Linked DNA regions of Homo sapiens: all the other regions are linked to region 2. The links come from fine-mapping of genetic effects on gene expression. A gene starts in region 2. Each other region holds a variant in brackets. All regions are shown on one strand. Distances are from middle to middle.

Evidence for each region.
Region 1: its variant is fine-mapped to the expression of RNF130 in sun-exposed skin (GTEx, PIP 0.91).
Region 3: its variant is fine-mapped to the expression of RNF130 in whole blood (INTERVAL, PIP above 0.99).

The regions. Positions count from the first base shown.
Region 1 is chr5:179,983,230-179,985,729 of GRCh38, reverse strand. All of the region lies in intron 3 of RNF130 (ring finger protein 130), which reads left to right. Among named protein-coding and RNA genes, the nearest start is that of MIR340, 31 kb to the left of the region's middle. The variant C/T (reference allele first, on the strand shown) is at 1,253.
Region 2 is chr5:180,070,457-180,073,276 of GRCh38, reverse strand. It overlaps RNF130 (ring finger protein 130), which reads left to right and starts at 1,518. Exons shown (of 9, transcript NM_018434.6): 1 at 1,518-1,821. The coding sequence starts at 1,575. RefSeq lists a silencer at 1,168-1,247 and an enhancer at 1,137-1,844.
Region 3 is chr5:180,023,849-180,026,348 of GRCh38, reverse strand. The region is part of intron 2 of RNF130 (ring finger protein 130); the gene reads left to right. Among named protein-coding and RNA genes, the nearest start is that of MIR340, 9.7 kb to the right of the region's middle. The variant G/C (reference allele first, on the strand shown) is at 1,366.

The DNA of each region.
Region 1 (2,500 bases), 87 kb after region 2:
CTTATTGATAAAGCTACTAAACACCAGCCTGGAAGGGAAATTATAAATACCATCTGCCGGTTTTTAATTGCAAAACAGGGAGGACCGAATAGTGGGAACCCTCTGAATTGGTTTTATCAGTGCTTTGTCCCTGAAATTAGGAAGTACCTTGCCAGGGTAGGACTGCCTTTTAACGTTTTTTTGATATTGGATAATGCCCCTGGCCACCCAGAACCCCATGAATTCAATACTGAAGGCTTCAGAGTGGCCTTCTTGACCCCAGACATGCCTCTAATTCAACCTCTAGAGCAGGGGGTCCTAAGGACCCTTACGGCTTAGTATGCACAGTATGCTATGTAAAGCATTTAATGCTGTAGAATAGAATCCAGATAAAACATCACAAAAGTCTGGAAAGATGGCACTGTTGAAGATGTCATTATTATTATAGGAAATGCCATGAAAGTCTAAACAAAAGATTTCTATGGGAGAAAACTGTGTCCAGACGTAGTACATGATTTCACAGGATTTATGATAGAGCCAGTCAAGGAAATCATGAAACAGATTGTGGATATGGCAAAAAAAAAAAAAAAAAAAAAAGTTAGGGGGTAAAGGGTTTCAAGATGAGGATGTTGAAGAAATTCAAGAGCAAATAGATACTACACCAGAGTAATTAAATTAATAGGAGATGACTTGATGGAAATGGGTGTTTCCATGTTGTTCAAGGGGCAGCTATGATAACAATATCAAACAAACTATAGGTTGAGTACCCTTTATCCAAAATGCTTTGGACCAGAAATTTTTCAGATTCTGGAATATTTGCATTATACTTACCGTTTGAGCATACCAAATCCAAAATTCTGAAATGCAAAATGCTCTAGTGAGCATTTCCATTGAGTTTCATGTTGGCACTGGAAATGTTTCATACTTAGGAGCATTTCAGATTTTAATTTCAAATGCTTAACTTATATGGAAAAGGCAGGAATACCTCCAATTTCATTGTATGGCACCAGTATCATTCCTAATACCAAAACTAGACAGAACTACTACAAAACAAAACTACAGACCAGGACCCCTCTTGAACATAGATGCACAAATTCTAAAAAATTTAGCAAATTATATTTAACAATATATATAAATTCATCATGACCAGGTGATGTTTACTCCAGGAATATAAGTTTCATTTAACATTCAAAAATTAATGTATTATTACCATATTAGCAGGCCAAAAAAGCTAAAACTGTATGATCTCAATAGATGGAGAAAAGATATTTGC[C/T]GAAGTCCAACATCGATTCCTGATTTTTAAACTTTCCTCAAACTATTAGGGCATCTATGAAAAACTGACAGCCACCATTATATTTAATGGTGAACGACTAAATTCTTTTTTCTAACATTAGGAACAAGAGAAGAATGTGTCCTCTGATCACTTCTGTTTCTGCGTTGTTCTTTAGATTCTAGCCAGCACAGTAAGTAAAAAGGAAAAGACGTAAAAGACATCCATTGTGGAAATGGAGAAGTAAGCTGTCTTCATTTACAGACAACATTATTTTCTGTAGAAATTTCGTGTAGAAGATATGTTGGAATCTATGAAAAAGACCAACAGTAGATTTAACAAGGTTCCATGATACAAGATCAATATGAAAGAATTAATTTTATTTCTATATATGAGTAATGAATAATTGAATTGGTTTTAAAAAATGCATTTTCATCAAGCAGATGGTGCACACCTGTAGTTCCAGCTACTTGTGAGGCTGAGGTAGGAAGATTATTTGAACCCAGGAGTTTGAGTCCAGCCTGGGCAACATAACAAGACCCTATCTCTAAGAAAGTTAAATTTTAAGAAATCCCATTTTCCATAGCATCAACAAATAGGAAATTCTTAACAATAAATCTGACAAAATATGCAATATGCCCTATGTAGTGAAAACTAACTATTGCTGAGGAAATTAATCAAGAACTAAGTAGGTGGAGAGACACATACACAGTGTTCAGTGGAAGACTTAATGTTGTTAAGATGCCAGTTCTCCCCAAGTGGATGTATACATTCAGCACAATCTCATTGTAAATCCCTGATGTCTTTTATCATAGAGATGGACAAACTGATCCTAAAGTTCATATGGGAATGCAAAATATCAAGAAAAACCACAAGGATGTTAGAATAGAAAGGAAATGTGGGATGGTTAACACCACCTAATTTCAGATCTATTACAAAGCCTCAGAAATCAGGACAGGATTGTATTTCCTTAATGGTAAACAAATAGATGCATGGTACAATAGTGTCCGCACATAGACCCACATATTTATGGACAACTGGTTTTTGACAGATTTAGAAAGGTAATTCTGTGGAGAATGGACAACCTTTTCAACAAATGATTCTAGAACAATTGTATGTCCATATGCAAAAAAAAAAAAAAAAAAAAGTTCATCTGTACCTGACAGAATACACAAAATGAGTCAGAACCCTAAATACAAAGTACGAAACTATAAAATTTCTAGAAGAGAAAACGGGGAAGTCTTTGTAACC
Region 2 (2,820 bases):
GCGCCTGGCCAGTGGTGGGCATCTTAAGTTTTAGCCTGCACTGCATCCGTACCCTTTCCTGGAAACAGTGCCTCAAATTTCTTTTTGGGGAGCCACCTCTTTTCCGGATTTTCAGAACATTTGGTTGTGCAAAGCTGACTCCACCCACTTCCCGCAGTAGGAGACAGGAGACTCAACCCTGGCTGGTCAGAAGACGCCAAACTTTCCCCCTCCGCCTCCCCACAAAGATCCTGTAAGTTCCTGAATTCGGCTGCACTGCCCCATTCTTCCTTTTAGCTGATACTTTATAGCGATGTGTATCTTTTAAACGCCATGGAGAGAGAAAATGAGAGTCGTGTGTGTGTGCGCGCGCGCGCGTTTCGGAAGGTGGAGGGGGGGTTCCCACTGCAACCCTCTGGTCCGGGGGCCCCTGGAGTAGTTCACCTAGTCACTAGAGCAGGGGCTCCCCAACCGCCCGGCCGCGGACCTGTACCGGCCCAGGGCCTTCGAGGAACCAGTAAGCGAGCAGGAGGTGAGTGAGCATCACCGCCTGAGCTCCGCCTCCTGTCAGATCAGGGCGGCATTAGACTCTCATAGCAACGTGAACCCGGCTGTGAACTGCGCATGCTTGGGACCTAGGTTGCCCACTTCTTACGAGAATCTAACGCCTGATGATCTGAGGTGGAGCAGCCTCATCCGGAAACCACTTCAACTCCCTCAGTCCCTGGAAAAACTCTCTTCCTGGAAACCCGTCCCCCAGTGCCAAAATGGTTAGGGACGGCTACCCTAGAGGTCTTTCCCAACCACTCGTGTCCCTGCAGGTCCGGGCCAGAGACATCCCCCATCCATGATGTCAACCGCATGACGTGAATGTTAAATCTCATGACATTTAATTTTAAACATTTCTTTTAAAGTTATGGCTTTTTTTCCTTTGTAGTCTGTTCTCACACATTTCCATACGTCCTCGCAAATCTCCCGGGCTCCACGCCCTGCGGCTATCACGCCTGACAGAGAAACAACCAGCACCAGCGGCTGACCCGGCTGCCCGGGCCCTCGTGCAGGCGGGCGGGAGCGGACAGGCCCTGGCACGCATGCGCTCGGGGCGGGACTGCGCCTTAGGCCTGCGCGTTGCCGCTAGACCAGCGGGGGGGCGGGGCGGCGGCGGACACGCGCCTCAGGCGGCAGCCGCGCGAGAGGGACTTTGTGTTCCGCTGACCCTCCTCGGGGCGCTTCCTCCCGTGCCGCCCTTCCCCTCCCCCGCCGCGTCCTTGCGAGGCGCCTCCCATTCGGTGGGACCGACCCGGGGGGATGGAGGGGGCACGCTTCTACAACCCTCCTGGGACCCCGAAGAGACGCCCGCGTGCGACCTGAGACGCCGCCCTCGCCGAGGGCCCATGGGCGCGTCCCCACAGGCGGGCAGTGGACGTGAGGGCGGCGAGCGGCGGGGCCGCGGCGTCCAGGAGGGCCGCGCTCGGGCTCGGCCCCGCGCAGGCCGCGCGCGCGCGCTCCCGCCGCCGCCCGGGCCGCGCCCGCCCCGCCTCTAGGCGCCGGCCCCGGAGCCCGGTCCGCGAGCAGCGGCGGCTGCCGGAGGGACGATGAGCTGCGCGGGGCGGGCGGGCCCTGCCCGGCTCGCCGCGCTCGCCCTGCTGACCTGCAGCCTGTGGCCGGCACGGGCAGACAACGCGAGCCAGGAGTACTACACGGCGCTCATCAACGTGACGGTGCAGGAGCCCGGCCGCGGCGCCCCGCTCACGTTTCGCATCGACCGCGGGCGCTACGGGCTTGACTCCCCCAAGGCCGAGGTCCGCGGCCAGGTGCTGGCGCCGCTGCCCCTCCACGGAGGTGAGTGCCGGCCCGGGGGCGGCGGGCGGTGGTCGCTGCATCCCGCGTAGGCGGCGGGACTAGGGTTCCCGGCCCCGGCTCTGGCCCTGGCTCTCCCGCGCTGCCCGGCCGACAGCCCCAGCCAGGGTCGAGGCTTCCGTCGTGGACAGCCCGGCCTGCTCCCGTGGGAACCAGGCTCCAGGAGCGTGACTGGGTTTTTCCCTTCTTTTAAAAAAGACTTGGAACGGTCATCTTTGCGTTCAGGCAGCTCGTTTGCTGGAGGGCATTGAGCTAGGAGTTTGCAGGGACAGCGTAGACAAAGGAGGTGGTGCAAGAGCGCAAAACTACTTCATGGGGAGGACGTCTCAGCCTGTATTTTGGAAGCGGCAGGTTCCTCAAATCACGGACTTAAGGCTGCGCTAGATCTGGAAGGATGCGGCCCTTTTCTAATATAAAAACGTGCCGTTTTTCTTAAGTGGTAAATTGGGGGGGGGGTGTAAATGGAAAATGGACATCTTCCCTGTTGCTTTTGGCTCTTGTTCTTGCCCTAGTAGTTTTACTGTAATTTGACGCCTGAAAATGTCACATTATGAGGATCTGACACTAATCGGAACTACTAGCCAAGGCTTTTCAGGTCACGGGTGCCGACCAAAAGGGAAATAGGTAAAATTTTCAAGAATTGTCTTTGAAACCATTCGGCTTAATGTCATGTTTTCCTATGAACAAGGACTTTGTTTAGTTGATTATTTGGTGTAAACATGTATTTGTTTAAATTATTAGTCATGGTTTGAAAGAAACCTTTTGCACATCGTGGAATATGATTTTTTGGGTTTTGGCCCACGCTGAACTTTTGGGAGATATCTGCCATTATCCCCACCCTCATTGTCACCCTGAGAATGCTGAGAGGGGATTTTTCTTTTCTAAACTGCTGTTCATGTTAGGATGACCTAAAGTAGGCAACCTAAATAAAGTCATGATTTGCTTGTACACTCTTAAGATACTAACATATTATGCCCCTCT
Region 3 (2,500 bases), 47 kb after region 2:
ACTTTACTGTTATTGTTTAATCATCTTAAGTTGTGTTAAATCACTGTCTGATAGAATTAGCTGTAGTTTTATCTGTATGTCTGTAAGAATTTTGTGGACATTCTTTCCATTGTTGAAAGGAAGATGAGGTAATTTAGATAAACATGTAACCAAATAATAATGTTGCTTTTTAATCTTTTTATCAATCAGCAATATCAGATGCTTCTTACTGGGTTTTTCTTTTTTTTTTTTGGATGGTTGAACAAAATTAGTTGAATGGCTCTTCACCTTTTTTCCATCATATTCTCTTAAAAACGTATTTAGCTCTATATTTATTATCTAGCATTGAATAGAAAAATGTCACACTTTGTAAAATATAGAAAATTCACTGTGAATACAAAAAATACTTTATGAAAACAAGTAAAAAGAAATCACAAACACATTGTAGAATACCTTTACGTATCAGTAATTTGGGCCACTTAACGTAAATCTATTTTCTTTATTCTAAATGCCTATCAAGAAAATGAGTAATATAAGTATACTATTGTTTTACCGTTTAAAGTTTTTTAGCTTCTAATTGAATATGGATTTAACTACCTCAGAAAAGATGGAGCTTGGAATTGAAGTGTACTGCTGTGGCAGGAAGTAAGGGTTTAAATTGCATTTATATTTTTGCCTGAGTTTGCACATGCTTCTACTGTATCTTCCATCTGGTTCATACATTTTTTTAAAAAAAATTCATAATTATCAAAATCTAAAACTGAAACACTTAAGCAGTAGCTTTAAAAAAATAAAAATAGCCTTTAATAAAATAAATGCAATGGTTCCATTTTAAAACTTCCATAAGCTCTTAATTTTCTTTTTTCTTTAAATCTGAAGTGGAACTGGAGAGTGCCTTCACCAGCAGATACATGAGACTGTCCTCTAGCCTTCCTTGCAGTCTCCGTGTCCCAAGTGGGTTGTTTGAAGTTGTCACTTGATTTACTTTTTTGTCTTTTCTGTGCTTCTCTTTCCTCACTGGCAGCAGAAGAGGAGGAAGGTAAAATCATATAAAGGATCTACATGGGTTTGAAATACTGTTTTAGAAATCAGTTTCCTAGGTTCCAGGACGGAGGATGTTCTTAACTGATAGAAGTTCATATGATGATGGACCTGACCTTGGAGTTAGGATCTCAAGAGTTGGTCTCACTGGCACAGCTGCTAAGGAGGATCATGCAGCCTTAGGCTATAGGTGTTAGAGGTCTGGGTGAGGATCTCTACCCCGCATTGATGCTTACAGTGCTTCTCGATTCAGGATGGAAGTGGAGGACAAGGCAGGGGTATTTTGGGACAGTCCTTTTGCTCTGCAGGTCTGTCTTTTGTATTACAGAGTGTTTCACCTCCCAG[G/C]TGTGGACCTGCTAAGTGCTGGTGGCACACCTCTGCGCCTGCGACAGCATGGAGACCCCTCCCACAGGGCTTCCAGACACCCCCAGGAGAGCTTTACTGCCCCTGTTGAGACCCACTGTCAGATGCTTAAGTTTGAGGAGCGTTTAGAGGAAGAATGAAAAGGGACCCCTCATTCGTGAAGGGAGTGGGAATGGCAAAACTCATGAAAAAACGGTAGGCTTTTATGTTTGCCTACATACTAACAGTTCTGCTGTTCTTTATTTCTTTCTGAATTTCCAAGTTTCCGTTTGGTGTCATTTCCCTTTTTTTAAATCATTTCATGCAGCACAGATCTCCTGATGATGAATTCTCTCAACATTTATTTATCCGAAAGTGTCTTTTTTTGGCCATCATTTTTCAAAGACAGGTATAAATTTTTGTGTTGACAGAATTTTCCTTTCAGCACTTCAAAGGTGTTGTTTGTTGTTTTCTGGCTTACGTTTTTTTCTGATGAGAAGTTGTTCCCTTTTATATAATGAGTCTTTAAAAAAAAACTTTACTTTTTAGAACTGTTTTACATTTATGGAAAAATTGGGAAGATAGTACAAAGAATGTCTGCAAACCCTGCACCCAGTTTCCTGTTAGGTACCATGTGACATGTTAATTTGTTGTACCACAGGGAACTAATGTTGGTACATAATTATTAACCAAAGTCTATTACTTTATTCATATTTCCTTAGTTTTCACCTAGTTTTTTTTCTGTTCTAGGATCCCACCCAGGACACCACATTACATTTAGTCATCATGATCCATTAGTTTTCTCTTGGCTGTGATACTTTTTTAGACTTTCCTTGTTTTTGATGACCTTGACAGCTTTGAGGACTGCTGGCCCAGCATGTTGTAGAATGTCCTTCAACTGGGACATGTTTGATAGTTTTCTTATAATTAGGCTAGGGATATGGGTTTTTGGGAGGAAGACCACAGGGATTTGTAAAGTACCATTAGCATGCATCCTGTCATACCAAGTTTATGTGCTATCAGTGTGAAGTATCACCAGTGATGTTGACTTTGGTCACCTGGCTGAGGTAGTGTCTGTCAGGTTCTCCACTGTGAAGTTAACTCTTTTCCCCCTGCCATATGATAACTTTTGACACCA